Regions from separate parts of the Homo sapiens genome. Here region 1 is linked to region 2. The links come from fine-mapping of genetic effects on gene expression. Tissue or cell type: fibroblasts. Region 2 holds a variant in brackets; the other region holds the start of a gene. All regions are shown on one strand. Distances are from middle to middle.

Evidence for each region. PIP is the estimated chance that this variant, and not a neighbour inherited with it, causes the effect.
Region 1: PLEKHA4 starts here. The variant in region 2 is fine-mapped to the expression of PLEKHA4 in fibroblasts (GTEx, PIP 0.98).

What each region holds. Positions count from the first base shown.
Region 1 is chr19:48,863,834-48,871,910 of GRCh38, forward strand. It overlaps PLEKHA4 (pleckstrin homology domain containing A4), which reads right to left and starts at 4,784. Exons shown (of 20, transcript NM_020904.3): 1 at 4,250-4,784; 2 at 3,704-3,793; 3 at 1,670-1,777. The coding sequence starts at 3,787. RefSeq lists an enhancer at 7,533-8,077.
Region 2 is chr19:49,451,064-49,459,131 of GRCh38, forward strand. PIH1D1 (PIH1 domain containing 1) reads right to left here and starts at 751. Exons shown (of 9, transcript NM_017916.3): 1 at 422-751. The coding sequence starts at 511. It overlaps ALDH16A1 (aldehyde dehydrogenase 16 family member A1), which reads left to right and starts at 2,162. Exons shown (of 17, transcript NM_153329.4): 1 at 2,162-2,358; 2 at 7,423-7,525; 3 at 7,897-8,023. The coding sequence starts at 2,269. RefSeq lists enhancers at 379-1,057, 682-961, 972-1,021, 2,755-3,714. The variant T/C (reference allele first, on the strand shown) is at 3,286.

The sequences.
Region 1 (8,077 bases), 590 kb before region 2:
AGTGCTGGGATTACAGGCGTCAGCCATCGTGCCCAGCCCATGTACTGCTTTGCAGAGAGTTTTGAGTTTGAAGGTGCATAAGAATCACCAGGAAGGTGTGTTAAAACACAGATTCTGGGGCCCCATCCCCAGAGTTCCTGATTTGGCAAATCTATGATGGTACCTCATCATTTGCCTTTCTAGCAAGTCCCCAGATGACGCTGATGCTGCTGGTCTGGGACCACACTTTGAGAACCACTGCTCTGCTGCTCCTCCTGGCTTCTTCCCCTGGCCTCACTTGACACCAAGGTTTTGCCTGCTGCAGACCTTTTCCTTTTGGATGCGATCTGCCTCCAGGTCTTTTTTTTTTTTTTGACATGGAGTCTCACTCCATCATCCAGGCTGGAGTGCAATGGCGCAACCTCGGCTCACTGCAACCTCCACCTCCCAGATTCAAATTTTCCTTGTCTCAGCCTCCCAAGTAGTTGGGATTACAGGCACCCCCAAGCTGGCCCGGCTAATTTTTGTATTTTTTAGTAGAGCCAGGGTTTCGCCATGTTGACCAGGCTGGTCTTGAACTCCTGACCTCAGGTGATCCGCCCGCCTCAGCCTCCCAAAGCGTTTGAATTACCGGCATGACCCACTATGCTCAGCCAGCTCAAATGTCACCTCAGAGATAATTTTCCCTGACCAAATGTCAAATTGAAGTTCTCCTCTCTCAGCCACGTTCAAGCACATCATATTCCGTTTTTTTGTTTTTGTTTTTGAGACAGGGTCTCACTCTGTCACCCAGGCTGGTGTGCAGTGACATGAACACAGTTCACTGCAGCCTCAGCCTCCTGGGCTTCAGCAATCCTCCTGCCTTAGCCTCCCGAGTAGCTGGGACTATAGGCGCACACCACCACGCTCAGCTAGGTTTTGTGTGTGTGTGTATTTGTTGTTGAGATGAGGTTTCTTCATGTTGCCCAGGCTGGTCTAGAATTCCTAAGCTCAAGCGATCTTCCCGTCTTGGCCTCCCAAAATGCTGGGGTTACACCACTGAACCTGGACCCTATGTTACTTCTTCATAGCCCATCCTGCGATCTGAAATGACCAAGTCCATTTATTTATTTACTAATTTATTATCCACCCATGCTCCACCCAATCTGGAATGTAATATAAATACTTTTGTGTTATTTGCATGGTGTGTGCCCTGGGATTGGGAACACTGTAAGTGTTCAAGAAGTAGTCAAGAAAGAATGAATGAATGGGCCAGGCACGGTGGCTCACGCCTGTAATCCCAGCATTTTAGGGAGCCGAGGCGGGTGGATCACTTGAGGTCGGGAGTTTCAGACCGCCCTGGCCAACATGATAAAACCCCATCTCTACTAAAAATACAAATATTAGCTAGGCATGATGGTGCATGCCTGTAAGCCCAGCTACTCGGGAGGCTGAGGCACGAGAATTGCTTGAACTGGAGGCCAGAGGTTGCATTGAGCCGAGATCATACCACTGCCCTCCAGCCTGGGCGACAGAAAGAGACTCTGTCTTAAAAATAAATAAATAAACAAACAAACAAACAATGACGGACTAAGGGGAGGGGCAGTGATAGCAAGAAAAAGAAAGCCTATTTGGGGACTTGCAAGGAGAGAGACAGAGGACAGCCGGGGCACAGACTTCAGTGTCCTTTTCCTTCTCCTACTGACCCCACCTGCTTATGAAGCCAGCCTCGGATGTGCACGGGAAGGTTGGGATCCCTCCTGAGCGCATTGCCTCTCTTCCCAAAGGCGTGGATCTTGTTTACTGCCCGGGTGGGCTTCTGAGGAGAGAAGGGGACAGAAGTGAACAGGGAGAGCCTAGGATGGTCCTGGGAGGGGGTGAGGGTGGACACAGGCAACCGTAGGCTCTCGCTTGGCTGCCCTGAGAAATGGGTCAAGGACCAGCCGGGCGCAGTGGCTCACACCTGTAATCCCAGCACTTTCGGAGGCTGAGACGGGTGGATCACGAGGTCAGGAGATCGAGACCATCCTGGCTAACACGGTGAAACCCCGTCTCTACTAAAAATACAAAAAATTAGCCGGGCGTGGTGGCGGGCGCCTGTAGTCCCAGCTACTCGGGAGGCTGAGGCAGGAGAATGGCGAGAACCCGGGAGGAGGAGCTTGCAGTGAGCCGAGATCGCACCACTGCACTCCAGCCCGGGAGACAGAGTGAGACTCCGTCTCAAAGAAAAAAAAAAAAAGAAAGAAAGAAAAGGGTCAAGGTGGGGGCTGAAGTTGGAGATCAGAATTGGGAGGTGTTCTTATTGCAGAGTTAAGAGACTCTTTTTTTTTTGACAGGCTCTTTGGAGTGCAGTAGCCTAAACACTGCAGCCTTTACCTCCTGGACTCAGGTGATCCTCCAGCCTCAGCCTCCCATGTAGCTGGGACCACAGGCATGTCCCACCATGCCCAGCTAATTTTTTTACTTTTTGTAGGGGACGGGGGTCTCACTTTGTTGCCCAGGCTGGGAGAGACTCTTTTTTTCTTTTTCTTTTGAGACAGAGTCTCGCTCTGTCCCCCAGGCTGGAGCACACTGGCACCATCTTGGCTCACTGCAACCCCTGCCTCTCGGGTTCAAGTGATTCTCCTGCCTCAGCCTCCTGAGTAGCTGAGATTGCAGGCACGTGCCACCACGCCTGGCTAATTTTTGTATTTTTAGCAGAGACGCGGTTTCGCCATGTCAGTCAGGCTGCTCTTGAACTCCTGACCTCAGGTGATCCACCCGCCTCAGCCTCTTAAAGTGCTGGGATTATAGGCGTGAGCCACTGCGCCGGGCCGAGACTCTTTTTTTGATGGGCAGAGGGAGGTGTTCAGAGGCAAGGAAGAGGCTGTAGGGAAGCAATTTGGGGATCAAGCATCCACTGCCAAGAAGCAGATGCCCTTGGCCACCAGAGCCAGAGCTGTAGTAGGTCCTTTGGGATCTGAACTGGGACTATGGGCTGGGAGGGCCCCATAATCAGGGGGAACTCTCACGCTGAGTCTCCAGTGAATCAAAGGATGCCCTGGTGCCCTGCGGTCACACCCCTTAGCAACCAAGTACAAGGAGAGGAAGCCTCAAATCCCTCCATCCTGCCCGGATGGAGCCTCATCTCCTGATGCCCACAGATATCTCAGGCATCCTTAGCCAGGTCCCGACAATATGCCCTTCCTTGGAAGCGGTGGTACTGACCAAGGCTGAGATCAGATCTCTGGGCTCTGAACTTGAGAAACAATATGTGTGGAACGGCAGGAGGAAAAAGAAATGAGTGTCTCCCTAAGCTTTTGGCTGGGATGCCGATTTGGGATGCAAGTATCTGGAGGCCCCTTGGGTCTTATTGTCAGAGAAGGGTCTCTCCTTATAGGATTTCATTAGTGGGTAGATTGGATGGCGAGAGATAGGACAGCAAGTTCTGGCACTAATCAAGAGCAGCCACTACTTCTCAGAACTCGAGGGGCCTCATGGCTGGGGAGCGGCTTTATCTTAGCAACCAGGGTCAAGGGAGGTTGTTACTCTGGTTTAGAATTAGGAAAATACAAAGGGTGGGGACAGAGCTGGGAGTGCCTCTGAATTCCTAGCTGCGGTGTGTAGGCAATTTGGGACCTTACTATGTCTGGCAGACCCCGTTGCTAAGGATCTTTGTCCTTAACAACCAGAGTCCTTGGGGAAACAGAAGGATGGGCGGCCCAGAGCCCCACCTTCCTCCCCATCCCCGCCAGGAAGCTCAAACCTTGGGGCTCAGGCTGCTGAGCGAGGAGATGGTGGAGGCGCTGCTGGCCAGGCTCAGGCTGCTGCGAGGTCGGCTCCCCTCCATCAAGGGCTGGGGGAGAGAAAGAAAGGGGCTGTGTCTCTGCAGTGACGGGTGTGAGACAGAGATGGGGTCAGGGGCTTGGAGGTCGGAGGAGGCTGCAGAGAAAGAGCCTGTTGTTTCGGGACTTGGGGGGCTGGGGGAGGCCATGGCCCGTGACCACATACCAAGAGTGGTGCCAAGAGAGGTAGGCGGCCCTGGCAGCTGCGGGAGGGGGCAGCTGTCTGCAGCCCAGGCCAGAGAATAGGGGCTTCTTTATTCCTGCCCACTGCACTCAGGCCAGGAATTTGACCCTCTCTGTGCTTAGGGACTCCCCATTCCCTGCCTCCTTCCGGCTGCCCCAGGCTACCTGTCTCCCGCCCTCCCACATGCACCCCCAAACCACCCCTGCCAACTCCCCAAGCCAAGCCCTGCGGCACCAGGAATGTGAACCCAGAGAGCCCCTCCCAGCCCAGCCAGGGAACTTACCCAGCTCTGGGGTCCCAGTGACGGGGGGGCAAGAGGACGGTGTGGGTGCTGCGGCACCTAGGCAGTCTCCCGCCTCCTTTGTCTCTTAGCTGCTGTCTCTCATAGTTCTCAATCTCTCTCCTCACCTGCTCACTCACACTTTTTGTCTCTTTGTCTCCTGTCTCTTACGGTCTCTCTCTCTCTCTCTTCCTTTTACACTACCTCTCTCCCCACTCTCACTTTCTGTGTCTCCCTCTGATCTCTGTCTCTTCCAGTCTCTCTCTCACTCATTCTCTCCCTCTCTCTCTCTCTCCAATCTTTCTGTTTCTGTCCAAATCTTTTATTGTCAGACTCACAGGGTCTCTTCCTTAAGTCTCTGTCTCATTCTCTCTCTCTCTCTCTCTCTGTCTCTCAGTCATCCCCTGTGTCCTCTCTCCTTCACACTCAGTCTCTTCCTCTTTCTCTCTGGCTCTGCCGTTTCCTCCCTTTTCTCTTTCCGATTTCCCTTCTCACTTTCTCCCTTCCTCCCTCTCCCAGTTTCTCTTTCCTCTCTGCTGGTCTTTCCCTGCCTCTGCCAGCCGCCCACGCTGCTGTTCTCCCCTCCCAATCCCGGCTGTCCCCGCCCCTTCTGGCCTCCCCACTACAGCCTGACCTCTGGCTCAGCTGCCCCCATAGCTGAAGGGAGGGGCTTGGGCCCCCCAATTCCCAGGTCCCCTAAGGACCAAGGTTGGGACTTCTCAGTGTTTGGAGAGTTGGACTTGAGGCCTGCACTCCAGGGCCCCCGTGGGTTTGCTGCTGTGGTTGGGGGCCTGAGCCACTGGTGTCCTAAACGGAGGAGGCTTGTGTCCTGCAAGGGGTGGGGACTCAAATTTCCAAAGCCCTGGAGGGAATGGGTTAGGGATCCAGACTCCTGGGTGCCCGAGAAGGTCTGAGCTAGGATCAGGACTCCTGAGTCGTGAAAGAGCTGGGGGTCTGGAAACATGGCTGTGCTTGGAAGGGGCCAGGGACGGTTTGTCCAGGTCCCCTAGGGAGAAAAGGGGATGGTCCCAGTAGGGCAGGGTGAAATGGAGAGTTCCAAACCTCCACCTCAGATCCAGGTGAGAATTCTCTTCTAGACTGAGGACAACTCCCTCAGGAGAGAGACATGATTCCTTGGTATATTTTGAGGAACAAGATTATGCATCCGTAGGCAGGGGAGGAGAGCGGGGGGCTGGAACTGTCACCCAGGGCCTGGAACTTGTAGCAGAAGCGCCCCCACCCGCACAAAGAGTGCCACCCAGGCAGAATCGCGGCTTGTGGGGGCAGAGCTACTGCCTAAGTCTGAAGCAGATGACACCCAGGAGTGGAGCCTTGTGCCTGTGACCGGGAAGGAATCTGAGCTTTCGGTTTAACTGCCATTCACCATGCACCTGTTGAGCACCTACTGTGTGCAGGCACTGTCTGTTGCAGCCACTGAGAAGAAAGCAGTGAGCCCTGGCTGGGTGCAATGGCTCACGCCTGTAATCCCAGCACTTTGGGAGGCCAAGGCAGGAGGATCGCTTGAGACCAGGAGTTCAACACCAGCCTGGGCATCATAGCGAGACCTTGTCTCTATTTAGAAAATGAATTTCTTTTTTTTTTTTTTTTGAGGCGGTGTTTTGCTCTGTCGCCAGGCTGGAGTGCAGTGGCGTGATCTCGGCTCACTGCAACCTCCGCCTCCCGGGTTCAAGCGATTCTCCTGACTCAGCCTCCTGAGTAGCTGGAACTACAGGCACATGCCACTGCACCCGGCCTAAATTAATTATTATTATTATTTTTTTGAGACGGAGTCTCGCTCTGTCGCCCAGGCTGGAGTACAGTGGCACGATCTCAGCTCACTGCAAGCTCTGCCTCCCAGGTTCACGCCATTCTCCTGCCTCAGCCTCCCGAGTAGCTGGGACTACAGGTGCCCACCACCACGCCCGGCTAATTTATTTTGTATTTTTAGTGGAGGCGGGGTTTCACCGTGTTAGCCAGGATGGTCTTGATCTCCTGACCTCATGATCCACCTGCCTCAGCGTCCCAAAGTGCTAGGATTACAGGCGTGAGCCACCGCGCTCAGCCTAATTACTTTTTTTTGAAAAGCATTGAGCCCAGCAAAGTGCCTGATCTCATAGTGCTTACATCCTCATTCTCATTTGCAAGGAATCTGGACCCTGCTGTGACTATCTTGGTCAAGTGGCTTCATTTCCAAGCCTGTTTCCCCATCTGTGAAATGGGAACAATGACACCCTCGCACTCGGGGAGGAAACCAACCACATGTGAAAATAGGAGACTCTAGCCAGGCGTGGTGGCAAGCTCCTGTACTCCCAACTACTCAGGAGGCTGAGGCAGGAGAATTGCTTGAACCCGGGAGGCGGAGGTTGCAGTGAGCCAAGATCATGCCATTGCACTCCAGCCTGGGTGACAGAGTGAGACACCGTCTCAAAAAAAAAAAAAAAAAAAGAAAGAAAAAGAAAAAAGAAAGAAAAGAAAAAAAAAAGAAAATGGGAGACTCTAGGCTGGGGCCTGTGGGCTAAATTGGGGTAGGAGGCCAGGCACAGTGGATCACAACTGTAATTCCAGCACTTTGGGAAGCCAAGGCGGGCAGATCACCTGAGGTCAGGAGTTCAAGACCAGCCTGGTCGGCCGGGTGCGGTGGCTCACACCTGTAATCCCAGCACTTTGGGAGGCCGAGGCGGGTGGATCACAAGGTCAGGAGATCGAGACCATCCTGGTTAACACGGTGAAAAACCCCGTCTCTACTAAGAATACAAAAAAAATTAGCCGGGCGTGGTGGTGGGCACCTGTAGTCCCAGCTACTAGGGAGGCTGAGGCAGGAGAATGGCGAGAACCAGGGAGGAGGAGCTTGCAGTGAGCCAAGATCGTGCCACTGCACTCCAGCCTGGGCGACAGAGCAAGACTCCGTCTCAAAAAAAAAAAAAAAAAAAAAGACCTGCCTGGTCAACATGGCGAAACACTGTCTCTACTAAAAATACAAAAATTACCCAGGCATTGTGGCACATGCCTGTAATCCCAGCTACTCCAGAGGCTCAGGCAGGAGAATCGCTGGAACCCAGGAGGTGGAGGTTGCAGTGAACCGAGATGGCGCCACTGAACTCCAGCCTGGGCGACAGAGTGAGACGCCTACTCAAAAAATAAATAGGCTGGGTGCAGTAGCTCACGCCTATAATCCTAACACTTTGGGAAGCCGAGGCAGGCAGACTGCCTGAGCTCAGGAGTTCGAGAACAGCCTGGGCAACATGGCGAAACACTGTCTCTACTAAAAATACAAAAAATTAGCTGAGTGTGGTAGTGCGTGCCTGTAATCCCAGCTACTCGGAGGCTGAAGAGGGAGAATCGCTTGAACCCGGAAGATGGAGGTTGCAGTGAGCCGAGATCACGCCATTGCACTCCAGCCTCGGTGACAGAGCGAGACTCCATCTCAAAAAAAAATAAAAAAATAAAAAATAACAAATAAATAAATAGGCCTGGAGTGGTGGCTCACGCCTGCAATCCCAGCACTTTGGGAGGCCAAGGCAGGCAGAACACCTGAGGTCAGGAGTTCGAGACCAGCCTAGCAAACATGGTGAAATCCCGTCTCAGAAAAATAAATAATGAATAAATAAATAAATAAATAGGCCGGGCGCGGTGACTCACGCCTGTAATCCCAGCACTTTGGGAGGCCAAGGCGGGAGGATCCCCTGACGTCGGGAGTTCCAGACCAGCCTGACCAACATGGAGAAACTACGTCTCTACTAAACAAATACAAAATTAGCCGGGCGTGGCGGCACATGCCTGCAATCCCAGCACTTTGGGAGGCCAAGGCGGGAGGATCCCCTGACGTCGGGA
Region 2 (8,068 bases):
CTGTCGCCCAGGCTGGAGTGCAGTGCCGAGGTCTCGGCTCATTGCAAGCTTCGCCTCCCGGGTTCACGCCATTCTCCTGCCTCAGCCTCTCCAGTAGCTAGGACTACAGGTGCCCGCCACCACGCCCGGCTAATTTTTTGTATTTTTAGTAGAGACGGGGTTTCACCGTGTTAGCCAGGATGGTCTCGATCTCCTGACCTCGTGATCCGCCCGCCTCGGCCTCCCAAAGTGGTGGGATTACAGGTGTGAGCCACCGCGCCCGGCCCCCCACTCCCATTTCTTAGCAAACTTGAAGCCCATTAACCTCAATTCCCCGAGGCCTGGTTCCCGCCTTAGTGCATTCTGGGAACTGCAGTCCCATCTTTGAGCACCCCGCCAAAATCCCCGAATACTCAAGGATCCAGGGGTCCGGTCACTGCACCTGCAGCAGCAGCTCCTCAAATCGCGCCGAATCAGCACCGATCGCCTCCGCCTCGCTTAGCCCCATTCCCAGCAGCTTCGGGTTCGCCATGGCCCTGGGAAAGAGATCTAGGCGTCCTCGAGACCCTCAACGTGGGAAACTTTGCCCAGGATCCGAACCCCAGTGCCTGCTCTGGCCCTCAATCGACTCCGGATACCTACTATCCTGTTCAAAAACCTAAGACTGGCCTAAGACTACATTTCCATTCAAGACCGAACACCATCGTCAAATCCGTGGGGAATATGTGTCTCTAGACGCACTACCCTCCGTCCTACGTGCCGAACTGTAAACGAAGCCACACTTCCGGTCTATCGGTAAACACAGGACTGGAGTATGCCACACTTCCGAGTACCCCAGTGTTCATTCACAAGCTGGTATCGCGTTATCGACAAGCCACGCCCCTCGCATCAATCAAAAATAAACCCCAAGGCGGATCCCTGAGTGCCACACTTCCTGTATCTATGAAAGCCACACTTCCGGCTGGGCGCTGTGGCTCCTACCGGTAGTCCCAGCACTTTGGAAGGCCAGGGCAAGAGGATCGCTTGAGGCCAGGAGTTCGAAACCAGCTTGGGCAATACAATGAGATAACGTCCCACACCCCATCTCTTAAAAAAAAAAAAAAAGCGCCAGACTTCCACTCTTTCCACAACCAAAACTGGCCCCCTTACTTTGCAGTGAAGGTTGCATTTTCCAAACCTTAATCTCAATGTCCATCCTAAAAGGTACCCTTTTTATCTTTGAATTATCACTTCCTGCCAGCTCTAGATCCTAATACGTCCAGATCTAGACCCGCCAGGTCTAGATCTAGATCTAGACCTCTAGTCAATATAATTAGAAAAGCTGCACTTTGAGGCTGGGAGGCCGAGGTAGGAGGATCGCTTGAGCCCAGGAGTTCGAGACCAGCCTGAGCAACATAGCAAGATCCTGTCTCTACCAAAAAAAAAAAAAAAAAAAAAATTAGCCAGGCTTGATGGCACCTGCCTGTAGTCCCAGCTACTGTGCAGGCTGACGCAGGAGTAATGTTTAAACCTGAAAAGTCGAGGCGACAGTAAGCCGTGATCGGACCACTGCACTCCAGCCCTGGGCGACAGAGGGAGACCCTGTCTCAAGAAAATAAAAGGTAAAACAAAACCTGCACTTCCTGCTACTATAAAACAAGGCACTGGGAAGACGCATCAATAGGACGACCCTTTTTTTTTATTACTATTTTTTTTTTAGACACAGTCTCCCTTTGCCACCCAGGCTGGAGTGCAGTGGCGCGATCTCGGCTCACTGAAACGTACACCTTCTGGGTTCAAGTGATTCTCCCGCCTCAGCCTCTTGAGTAGCTGAGATTACAGGCGCGCACCACCACAGCTCGGCTAATGCTTGTATTTTTAGTAGAGACGGGGTTTCACCAAATTGGTCAGGCTGGTCTCGAACTCCCGACCTTAGGTGATCCGCCCGCCTCGGCCTCCCGAAGTGCTGGGATTACAGCCAAGAGCCATCGTGCCCGGCCACGCCGATCCTCATAAATCCGGAGCCCTCCTAACTATTCGCAAAGTACCCACATCGCCGTCTCCCCTTCCTCCCCGTTTTAAGCAGTGCGCATGCTCCTAAATACGCTTCCCCGTGGGGGACGTAGGCGGGGCCATCGGGTCCTAAGGAAAAAGTGTGGGCGTGGCTGCTCTCTGTATCTTGTAGCCCCACCCCATTCCCATTAGCCCCGCCCCTTTGGGCTGGAACCGGAGGTGTCGCTCTTCGGACCTCAAGGTTCCCCTTAACACAGAGCGCCCCGCAGTCTTCGCGGAAAGCGTTCGGGGTAGGCGATGGCTGCGACGCGTGCAGGGCCCCGCGCCCGCGAGATCTTCACCTCGCTGGAGTACGGACCGGTGCCGGAGAGCCACGCATGCGCACTGGTGAGAGTCTGCCCGGCCGGCGCTGCTCGCTGCGTTCCCCAGGCCTGGGCGCCCGGTTTTTCGCGGGGAGTCCCGTCATCCACTGCGGTAGCTCAGCCGCTCCGCCTCTCTTAGTCCCCGTGATTCCCGCCGCCCAATAGGATCGCGCCCTGTAGGACGCTCCCTTGAGCCTTGGCGGTGGCAGCCTTTTAGTCTGTTCCGGTCTTCCCCACTGGTTCTCTTGCCCCTTGATCCTGAACTCCTCGTAGTGTTTCCGCGGTTTTCCTGAACTCCTCTAGACGCTCTCGTGATTCCTCAGGGTCCCCTCAGAACCTGACGCCACCCACCAGACCCCTTAGGATTCCTGTGAGGCTCCAGTGACCCACAACCCCCATTGTCTTTCCACGACTCTTCAAAACATCCTATGGCTTCCATGGGCCTCCAGAGCACCCCAGACCTCCTGAGGGACTCCCTTCATCCCTTTGATTACCCAGAGACCTTCAGAACTTCCATGGAGCCCCCGTGATCCCATAGGACCCCTCAATACTCGTGGGGTTCATGTGACCTCATCGGAACTCTCAGGAGCCTAGAATACATCAGGACTTCCGGTTTGGGTTGGGTTTTTTTTTTGTTTTTTTTTTTGAGCCAGGGTCTCACTCTGTCGCCCAAACTGAAGTGCACTGGCGCTATCACACCACTGCAGCCTCAACCTCCTGGGCTCAAGCCATCCTCTCACCTCAGCCCCCCAAGTAACTGGGACCAGAGACGCGCGCCACCACTCTCAGCTAATATTTGTACTTTTTCTAGAGACAAGGTTTCAGCATGTTGGCCAGGCTGGTCTCGAACTCCTGGCCTCAAGTGATCCACCCACCTCGACTTCCCAAAGTGCTGGGATTACAGGCGTGAGCTACTGCACCCAGCCACATCAGGACTTCCTGTAATTACTTA[T/C]GGCCCCTCACAATACCCTCACGGGGCTCCTATGATCTCTCTAGCTCTCAGAATGTCCCATAGGGTTCCCATGATTGTTCAGGAACCCCTGAAGTCCTCGTGAGGGTCCCATGATCCCCTGGGGGTCCTCAGAACCTCCCTAGGACTCCCATGACCCCTCAGAGGCCCCCAGAACCCTCGTGGGGTTCCTGCAAATGAGTAGGGCACCTCAAACTTTCTGTCGTTTCCCCAGGCACTCTCAGAATTCCTTCACGGGGCTCTCATGATCCCCCAGGGTCCCCCAGCACCCAGGCGAAAGGAGCTTAGGCTTCTTTGAGGGGGAGGGCAGGAGGCCAGAGCAATGATCCAAGTGGAAGGAACTGGATCAGAACCCTGGCACAGCCTAGAACTTGGGGAGGCCAAGACGGGCAGATCGCCTGAGCTCAGGAATTCGAGACCAGCCTGGGCAACATAGTGAAACCTCGTCTCTACTAAAATACAAAACATTGGGCCAGGCGTGGTGGCTCAGACTTGTAATCCCAGCACTTTGGGAGTCCTAGGTGGGCGGATCACCTGAGGTCAGGAGTTCGAGACCAGCCTGGCCAACATGGTGAAACCCCATCTCTACTAAAATACAAAAATTACCTGAGCGTGGTGGTGTTTGCCTGTAATCCTAGCTACTTGGGAGGCTGAGGTGGGAGAATTGCTTGAATCCAGGAGGCAGAGGTTGCAGTAAGCTGAGATTGCACCACTGCACTCCAGCCTGGGCAACGGAGCAAGACGCTGTCTCCAAAAAAAATACAAAAATGGCTGGGCGCAGTGGTTCACACCTGTAATCCCAGCGCTTTGGGAGGCCGAGGCGGGCGGATCATGAGGTCAGGAGATCGAGACCAGCCTGGCCAAGATGGTGAAACCCATCTCTACTAAAAATACAAAAAATTAGCTGGGCGTGGTGGCAGGCACCTGTAATCCCAGCTACTTGGGAGGCTGGGGCAGGAGAATCGCTTGAACCCAGGAGGTGGAGATTGCAGTGAGCCGAGACCACGCCACTGCACTCCAGCCTGGGCAACAAGAGCAAAACTCCATCTCAAAAAAAAAAAAAAAAAAAAAAGGAAACAGAAAACAAAAGATTAGCCGAGGATGGCAGCACACACCTGTAGTCCCAGCTACCCGGGAGGCTGAGGTGGGAGGATCACCTGAGCCTGGGAGGTGCAGTGATCATACCACTGAACTCCAGCCTGGGTGACAGAATAAGACCCTGTCCCCCCTGAAAAAAAAAGAAGTTGAGGCCAGGCAAGTGGCTCACACCTGTAATCCCAGCAGTTTGGGAGACCGAGGCAGGAGGATCACTCGCACCTAGGAGTTTGAGACCAGCCTGGGCAACATGGTGAGGCCCTATCTCTATTAATATAAAAATAAAACATAAAAAGTGAAGTTGAGACTTGGACTTGAGTCCTTGCATTTCAGACCCGTGGTCTTGCCTACACCAGCAAAGTTCTCAACCGTACAGTCTCTGGGCCAGACTCAACCAACAAACATGTTTTCTTTGGCGTGAACTTTATTTTTTTTTTATGTGAAATGCTGGACAATTGATTCCATGTAAACATCCGGGAGGTCCTCTTGAAAATAAAATTCCAAAATGTGTCAACATTTGGCTCAACTTCCCTGACAAAAGTCATCTGGGACCAATAGCTCCTGTCTTTTCCATGAATCGTTAAGCTCCTCTTCTCATCCAGGCCCTCTTCTCAGGCCTCCTGGAACCCTCTGGACATTCTTTTGGAATTTTGTTTTTCTTTTGGGGGGAAGCTTTCCAACTTGCACAGAATAATTAGCATTTATTTTGAACTCCTGTTTACCCATCACTGTGCCTCAACCATCATCAACATTTATCCCAGCGCTGTTTCCTTCTGTATTTTCTTTGGAGTAATTTAAACAAATCCTGGATGTCACAGTATTTTCCTATAAATATTTGAATCCTTTCTTCTAACAGATAAGGGCTCATTTTGTTACAAAACTACCATGGTCTGTTACCACACTTAACATTAAGTCATTCTTTTTGTTTTTTGTTTGTTTGTTTGAGACAGGATCTTACTCTGTCGCCCAGGCTAGCATTCAGTAGCGTTCATAGCTCACTGCAGCCTGAAACTCCTGGACCCAAGCAATCCTCCCACCCCAGCCTCCTGACTAGCTGAGACTACAAGTGTGCATCATCATGACTGGCAAATTTTTTACTTTTATTTTTGTAGAGATGGGGTCTTGCTGTGTAGGTCCAGACTAGTCTCAAACTCCTCAGCTCAAGCAATCCTCCCGTCTCAGCGTGGGAAAGTGCAGGGATTACAGATGTGAGCTACCATGCCCGGCCAACAATCATTCTTTAATGTCATCTGATGCCCAGTTCATGTTCAAATATCCCTGACTTTCTCACAGATGTCTCTCTCCCTGTGGGCGTTTGAGTTTGGAACTTCTAAGTAACTTTTTTGCTTTAAAGAGAAAGGAGAAGCCAGGCACAGTGGCTCATGCTTGTAATCCCAGCACTTTGGGAGGCCGAGGCGAGTGGATCACCTGAGGCCAGGAGTTCGAGACCAGCCTGGCCAACATGGTAAAAACCCATCTCTACTAGAAATATATAAATTAGCTGGGCATGGTGGCGGCCGCCTGTAATCCCAGCTACTTGGGAGGCTGAGGTAGGAGAATCACGTGAACCCAGGAGGCGGAGGTTGCAGTGAGCTGAGATCGCACCATTGCACTCCAGCCTGGGAGACAAGAGCAAGACTCCATCTCAAAAAAAAAAAAGAAAGAAGGGCCAGTAAGAGAAAAATCAGGAATATGTGACATCAGAGATGCTAGGGGAGTCTGTAGAAGGAGCAAGTGAGCAGTGTGCTTTGGATTTAGCATCAGGGAAGACGTGACCAGGATGAGAAAGAAATATGGAGGAGAAGTCCGGGCGCAGTGGCTCACGCCTGTAATCTCAGCACTTTGGGAGGCCGAGGCGGGCGGATCACGAGGTCAGGAGATCAAGACCATCCTGGCTAACACAGTGAAACCCCATCTCTACTAAAAATACAAAAAAATTAGCCAGGCGTGGTGGCAGGCGCATGTAGTCCCAGCTACTCGGGAGCCTGAGGCAGGAGAATGGCGTGAATCCAGGAGGCGGACCTTGCAGTGAGCAGAGATCGCGCCACTGCACTCCAGCCTGGGTGACAGAGCAAGACTCTGTCTCAAACAAAAAAAAAAAAAAGAAAGAAAGAAATATGGAGGAGATGTGGTGAGTGAGATGTGGTAAAAAAATTTTTTTTCTTTGAGACAGAGCCTTGCTCTGTTACTCAGGCTGGAGTGCAGTGGCGTGATCTTGGCTTACTACAGCCTCTACCTCCTGGGCTCAAGTGATCCTCCCACCTCAGACTCCCAGGTAGCTGGGACTACAGGCACTCACCACCACACCCGGCTAACTTTTTGTATTTTTTGTAGAGATGAGCTTTCACCATGTTGCCCAGGCTGGTCTTGAATGCCTAGGCTCAGACCACCTCGGCCTCCCAAAGTGGACTCCAAATAGGTGCCACTGTTGTGGCACCAGCCCAAGGACTCAGTTGAGACCCTAATTGAATGAATTAAAGATGTTGACACATCCATAATCCCAGCACTTTGGGAGGCCAAGGCGTGCAGATCACTTGAGGTCAGGAGTTCAAGACCAGCCTGACCAACATGGTGAAACCCCGTCTCTACTAAAAATACAAAAACAAAACTAGCCGCATGTGGTGGCGGGCGCCTGTAGTCCCAGCTACTCAGGAGATTGAGGCGGGAGAATAGCGTGAACCCAGGAGGCGGAGCTTGCAGTGAGCTGAGATCATGCCACTGCACTCCAGCCTGGGTGACAGAGCAAGACTCAGTCTCAAAAAAAAAAAATGAAAAAATGTTCTAGAACTAGAGTGGTGATGGTTACACAACACTGTAAATGCACAGAATGCCACTAAACTGCTGAACTATACACTTTGAAATGCTCTATTTTACCACAAACTTTTTTTTTAAAGCAATAGGAGGAAAAGAATTAGCTGATGGGGCAGAGGGAGACAGACGTCCCCTCCTAGAGGATTCTGGGTAGGGGTTGAACTGCCCCAGCTCCTCCCGAACCCCTTTCCAAACTGTCTCTACCTCCCCCAGGCCTGGCTGGACACCCAGGACCGGTGCTTGGGCCACTATGTGAATGGGAAGTGGTTAAAGCCTGAACACAGAAATTCAGTGCCTTGCCAGGATCCCATCACAGGTACGAGATGTCCCCCAGTCATTAGTGGAAGGGAGGTATCTGTGCCCTCTAGCCCTACCCACCAACACCCATTCCCCTTGCCTAGGGCCCTGAGGGCAGGAAACAGCTGGTGGTGGGAGATGGGCTGCGATGTCTGGTTCCTTCTGAAACCAGTCACCCTAATTATGGTTCCGGGTCTCTGTGGAGGCTTTGTGAGACTGCTGTCTGTTAAAATAGCTTCCTTGCCCTGGAGGTGATCATAGCCGTGACCCAGCAGAGAATGGGGACCAGCTTTACACTCTTGGGCTGATCCAGGCTCCGAAAATCTCAGCCCCCTCCAGATATGACATGGGCTACTCCTCCCATCTGAGTCCCCCCACTTTTCTCCCCAGGAGAGAACTTGGCCAGTTGCCTGCAGGCACAGGCCGAGGATGTGGCTGCAGCCGTGGAGGCAGCCAGGATGGCATTTAAGGGCTGGAGTGCGCACCCCGGCGTCGTCCGGGCCCAGCACCTGACCAGGTGATGCAGCTGAGGTGTGGACCCCGGGAGGCGGGGAACCCCAGC